2 separate regions of the Homo sapiens genome follow, and region 2 is linked to region 1. The links come from fine-mapping of genetic effects on gene expression. Tissue or cell type: thyroid. Region 1 holds a variant in brackets; the other region holds the start of a gene. All regions are shown on one strand. Distances are from middle to middle. Region 1 overlaps MTA3 (metastasis associated 1 family member 3). Region 2 holds the start of HAAO (3-hydroxyanthranilate 3,4-dioxygenase).

The links. PIP is the estimated chance that this variant, and not a neighbour inherited with it, causes the effect.
Region 2: HAAO starts here. The variant in region 1 is fine-mapped to the expression of HAAO in thyroid (GTEx, PIP 0.98).

What each region holds. Positions count from the first base shown.
Region 1 is chr2:42,756,065-42,758,968 of GRCh38, reverse strand. MTA3 (metastasis associated 1 family member 3) reads right to left here. Exons shown (of 17, transcript NM_001330442.2): 17 at 2,023-2,904. Among named protein-coding and RNA genes, the nearest start is that of OXER1, 6.6 kb to the left of the region's middle. RefSeq lists enhancers at 1,783-2,354, 2,355-2,904. The variant T/C (reference allele first, on the strand shown) is at 1,619.
Region 2 is chr2:42,791,389-42,794,292 of GRCh38, reverse strand. HAAO (3-hydroxyanthranilate 3,4-dioxygenase) reads left to right here and starts at 1,710. Exons shown (of 10, transcript NM_012205.3): 1 at 1,710-1,836. The coding sequence starts at 1,757. RefSeq lists silencers at 974-1,063, 1,144-1,243, 1,424-1,863.

The DNA of each region.
Region 1 (2,904 bases):
ACAGCAATTTCAGTGAGTGGATGGGGGTGGGGGCAGAATGGAAGCCATAAAGTGCTATAATGGGTTGAGGAATTAATGAGATTTGAAGTAATGGAGACAACTCTTCCCCTTTCAACAAATGTGCCAGTAAAAGGAGAGAAGATAATAGCTTTAGATGAAACTAAGCAGAGGACAGATGTTTTGGTGGTTTGACTGTTCTGTTATTTGGTGGATTAGATGAAGAGATTTTTAAATACAGGAGGAGAAGGGAGAAAAGAAAAATACTGGGGAGGAGGGGAATGATGATGGGGACTGGAATGTACCAGACCTTATTCTAAGCATTTTACACATATTAATTTTTTTAGTCCTGATGAGGGAGATTCCATTATTATCCCATTTTACAGATGGAAACACTGAGGCACACAGAGGTTGAATAATTTGCCCAAGGTCATCCAGCTAGTAAGTGGCAGTCTGGCCTGAGTCAAGACACTATTGCAAGGCCCTAAGGGAGTGGAAGGATGAATGCAGCTCATGGGTGGCAGGAGGGTCTGTCCCCAGAAGATAGAAGGATGCCTCTTTGAGCTGGAGCAATGGCACTATTTCAGTAGGTCTTGGGACAAGGGGAATAAAGCTGAAGGGATTCTTAGAAGCCGCAGCTCTCAGGGGATAAGGACTTAAAAAGTGGCAAAGGATTGGAACAGCTGGTTCTGGAAATAAGAAAATCAAGCTCCCAAAGAAGAACATAGAAAAGGGTCACTAAGCAAGTGGCTCAAAGGGGCCTGGTGAGTTAAGCACCCTGATGAGTTAAGCTGTGGGGTCGTGAGTAGGTGGTGTGGTTCCTCCAGCAATCTCTGCACCCAGGAGCAGAATCAGAATAAACAGAGGGTAAAACCTACCCAGGGAGGGGCAGAAGAAACCTCCTAGGAAGTCCGATGATAAAAACCCAGTCCTGGTATGGAGCTTAAGGTCGGCCCCCTTGAGAGGTATGGCATGCAACACTCTAAGCTACAGAGGAGCTTCCAGAAAGAGGGAGGTGATATTTGAGTTCGCATTAAAAGCCTTAATTTAAAACAAAAAACAAAAAAACAAACAATAAAAACACTAAGAAGGCTGGGTGCAGTGGCTCATGCCTGTAATCCCAGCACTTTGGGAGGCCAAGGAGGGCAAATCACCTGAGGTCAGGAGTTCGAGACCAGCCTGGCCAACATGGTGAAACCCCGTCTCCACTAAAAATACAAAAATTAGCCGGGCATGGTGGCGTGCGCCTATAGCCCCAGCTACTTGGGAGGCTGAGACACGAGAATCGCTTAAACCCAGAAGGTGGAGGTTGCAGTGAGTCGAGATCGCGCCATTGCACTCCAGTCTGGGTGACAGAGCAAGACCATGTCTGAGAAAAAGGAAAAGAAAAAAATAAGCTTAGTGACTCCTTTTAAGAAAATCTTTCAGAAAGCCCAGCAAACAAGAGTCACAAACATGTGTACTTCACAAACACAGGCTGGAGGGGTCCCAAGGGAGCCAAGCTTCACTTTCCCCTATAATGACCTTGGCACAGCAGCTGAGACAGAGTCCACACAAACAGCCAGCCAAACAGCAAACCCCATGTTGGGGCACAGCAGCCTTCCTCAGTGCACCACCTGAA[T/C]ACCCCAGCACCCATCCCCACAACCCAGCACTGGCCACAGCAGGGCACAAGTCACACTGCAGGGTAGTTCACGGGAAAAAGGCTGCCTATTACACCTCATACCTCCAGGCCTGGGGGCACAGGGTCAAAGGCCTCCTACTGGGGTGACCTCGCCTCGTGAAACTTCCATGTCCCCAGGATGTGGCTTATGAGACAGCAGAAGAAGATGCAGACCCTGGGGAAAGGCCTCTGAGAGTCTCAGTGCAGCTGGGGCACAGCAGACCAACTGGCCTGGCCTATTACCTCCCCGGGGCCCTCGGAGCTCAAGGTTCTGAAACAAGGACCACCTGAGGCTGGGCCTAGGGGTGCGTGCACAGTCTTACACCTGAGCCATCATCCTAGTAAAGAACAGCATAAAACCAGGCAAAATTTCCAGGAATTTATTGGAAACACAATACAAATTGGTTAGTAGATGGCATCTCCTTACAGACAGACAATCCACACTGTGGTATCATGCTCAGAACGAATTATCCTGCGGAAACACTCATGAGCACAGGTGCGTGCTCTGGGTTAGCTTCCCTGGCAGGGAAAATCAGAGACATAGTGCAGAGGAACAGGAGGGGTGGACAGAAAACTGGGACATGGCCTTCCTGGGGGGAATGGTGAGGAGGGGCTGCTAACTGAGTAAATTCCCCCAAAGGAAAACAGGGACAACAGTAAAGAATAAAGGCTTCCCCCTCCCTCCCCAAAGCCGTTTCCTCTCTAGGCAGAGTAAAACAGAATCTCCAAACACCCACGGGGCAGCTCCTCCACCTCCCCTCGCCAGGGACTTAGGACAGCAGTGGGGCATAAACACCAGGCTCAGACATGACACCGAGTGCACTGAGGCCACGCACAGCCCCACCTGCTTGCCCTCAGCCCCCTGCTCTGCTCTGAGTGGCAGGGGACTGACCCGGTGGGTCGCCTGTCCCAGGCTCCCAGGGCAGCTGCTTCCAACTGGGTTTCACTACTGTGAGGCACCTGCAGGACTCTGGAGGCCAAGAGGAGGGGAGAGGCTGGGGCCCCCTCTCTCTGCCTGGGGAAATGTTTCTGACAAGAATCATGGCTTCTCGAGGCTCCAGCCCCCACCAGACAGGTCCACAGTGTGGCAGGTCCCCCAGTGGCCTTGGCCCCAGGCTCTGGTGACGCGTCCTCCCCTGGTGCCCAGCCAGTCTCAGGATGGGGGCGGCTTGCTGTTGTTGTTCCCCACCTCTGGGTTGCCCCTCACTCCCCTGTTTTGCCTCTCAGCTTTTCTTGTTTTGTGTTAA
Region 2 (2,904 bases), 35 kb before region 1:
CTTGTGTAGAGGGTTACTCGGGATATTTCAGACCCCCAAAATTCTACTTGTGGCCTTAATTATTCACATTATTTGATCACATCAGTTAAAATACAGAGTACCTATCATTCTTTCCTTTGCACTATGGTAACGGAACATCTGTTGGGCTGAAATCAATTTTTTCTCCTTTTTGTGTGAATTCATTGATGCCTTCATCCACCCACTCACCCATCCCTCCATTTAACTAACACTCAAAGCAAACTTAACACATCTCAGATCCTCAGTGCTTCATGTGTCATTGTTTACGTCTCCTCTGATTACTTGTAGATGAGAAAAATAAAGAAGGTGGTGTGAGTTACTTGGGTGCAAAACGATATTCTAGTTTTGCACTAGAAGTGCTCAGCTAAAACTGTGCTAGATAAATAACTAAAAAAAAGGAGAGAGAAAAATGAAAAAAAAAAAAAGAGCGTCAGAGAGGAAACGGGAGGGTCTCAGTGGGGAATTCGGCTTCCTGTCGTCTGGGTTTTGATTTTGAGTTGTACTAGAGGAGTCTTTATGTCTGGAATGCTGAGAAAACCAGCCCAGGCCAGGCGGGCTGTGAGGGCAGGATTTAGAGGCGTTTAGTTTCTTAAACTCTATAGTCTGGATTCCGGTGTCAGGGGCCTGAGCCATTTTCCTCCTCCCCTACCCGTCAGCTCCCACTCCCTCCAAACTTCCTAAGAAAGTTCTGAGTCCTGCAGAAAGACAGGCTTCTCCATCTTCCACACCCGCGCAGATTTCTCTTTCCTCACACATGCACGCCCAGGCCCAGCGCCCCAGCCCCTCACCCCCAGGATAACTGTTAGAGTCTCTCACACGGGGCTGTCATCATTAACACCCCGAGATTCCCGAGGGCTAGGACACTGAGGCCGGTGTCCACATCTGCCAAATTCCTCCCATAGCTGCGTGCGAACTGAGTATGTTCCTAAGACGCCTAAGGAGTTCAGCACGGGGCTCGGGGTCCACTGCGACACTGCGCGGACAGCGGCCGCTCGGCTGGGCCTCAGGTGGGGAGGGCTCGCGGTCCTGCCCTGAGCCCGGGCTCCGCAGCTCGGCGCCTGCACCGCTCCCCTCGCCGAGCCCGCGGCGGAGTCTGCCGGCCGCACGCAGCAGGTCTGGGGCTCACCTTGAATCGGGACCTGCGGGGACCGCCGTGCGGCTTCCCGCTGGGTGAGCGCCGCAGCCCTGAGTGGCGGGGCAGTCATTCCCCTTTTCCAGATGGGAAAGCCAAATCTTGAGCCCAGCGCCAGCACCGTGTTCTCAGGTGCTGGGACTTCCAACCCGCGATCTCCTCACTGTAGTATTTCTGGGAACCTTCCCTGGGATTCCCCTCGGGGCGTAGAGGGAAGGAACGTCTGGGGACAAGCGTCCAGGAAGGGTCTGGATTCTTTGTCCTCCGCCGGGAGCAGGCCCCACCGCAGGCGCCAGTGTGTGGGGCGCCCCGGAGACGGTGGCGGGGACCGAGCCCCTGCCCCGCGGAGAAGCAGAGGGCGCGGGACGCCGTTCCCCAGCGCTGCCGCCGCCGCGCTCGCCAGGGCCTGGAGTGGCGCGGAGGGCGGCGGGCTCAGACCAAAGTCCACCAGGGGGCAAAGTCCGCGGGCCCCAAGCCCCCACCACGGGGTCGCGGGGGTTTGCTCCGCCTCGTGAGCTTGGGATTCTGGTTAAAAAGGCGGCTGGGCGGAGCTGCGGGCCTCCGACGGCGGGAGGACAGCGCTGCGAGGAGGCGCCCGGGACAGTCATGGAGCGCCGCCTGGGAGTGAGGGCCTGGGTGAAGGAGAACCGGGGCTCCTTCCAGCCCCCGGTCTGCAACAAGCTCATGTGAGTCCAGCACCCCCATGGCCGCCCCCTGCCCTCGCCTCCTCCCCCTCCTCCATCTGCGCCCTCACCTTCCAGCTCCGAGTTCCTGGACCCAGAAGCTTGCAGAAGGACCGCTTTAATCTCTTGGTTCTTGGGGGAAGATGGAGACAGGCTGTTCCGGTTCCACCACATCGGTCTGTTCCTCTTTCTTGTGACTGTGGCCTTGACTTCTGAAGAAGGCTGAGCTGGTTCTCAGGCTGTAGGAGATGACATGACAGGGTGCACCTCTCCTTCCAGGGCTGAGAAACAATTCTCCAACCCCAAGTGACACTGTGCATTTTGGGAAAACTCAAAAGTGTGGGGAGGGTGGTTTTCAAGGCAGAAATGCACTAGAATGTAGGCCTGGGGGCAGCCAAATCATACACCCCAACCCTGTCCCAGAAGCCACAGGCAAAGGGGGAGGCAGAGAATCCGCTCCTTTGGGAAGATCTTGATGTCTTGCTTTTTTCAGGGCCCCTCTATGCAGGTGTGCACGAACACACACACACACACACCACACCAGACCCTCCCTAGGCCACCTCTGCCAGTAGCCTCTGCCTGCAGCACCCAACAGGGTTGGCCATCCAGCTGCCATCTTTCTCAGGCAGACCTCTCAGGCCCTCCCCTGTGGTATGGTCACCTCCCTCATCCCCCCAGTTCCATGGCGGGGCCCCACATGCCAGCTAGATCAAGGTTTACATTCCCCATTTTTGCTGTGTCCACAGGACATGGTCAGTAGGGTGGCACCTCAAGGCAAACAGCAGGCCCAGGACTATGCCAAGTGTTTTTACATCATCTCATCTCATTCTCACAGTAGCACCGTGAGGGGGGATTTTCATAAGTAACTTTTCTAGTGTCACGGAGCGCCTGTGCGATAGGCTCCAGACTCAACCCACGGAGCAGTTCGACTCCAGAGTCCACGCACACTCTTGGTTACCATGCAATACCACATGGCCAACAGTCAATATCTCCCCAAAGATCTCTTCTATCACTGTTGTTGCCCACCCCCAATTAAAGATGTAGCATCATCTTTGCCTCCTTCCAACACTT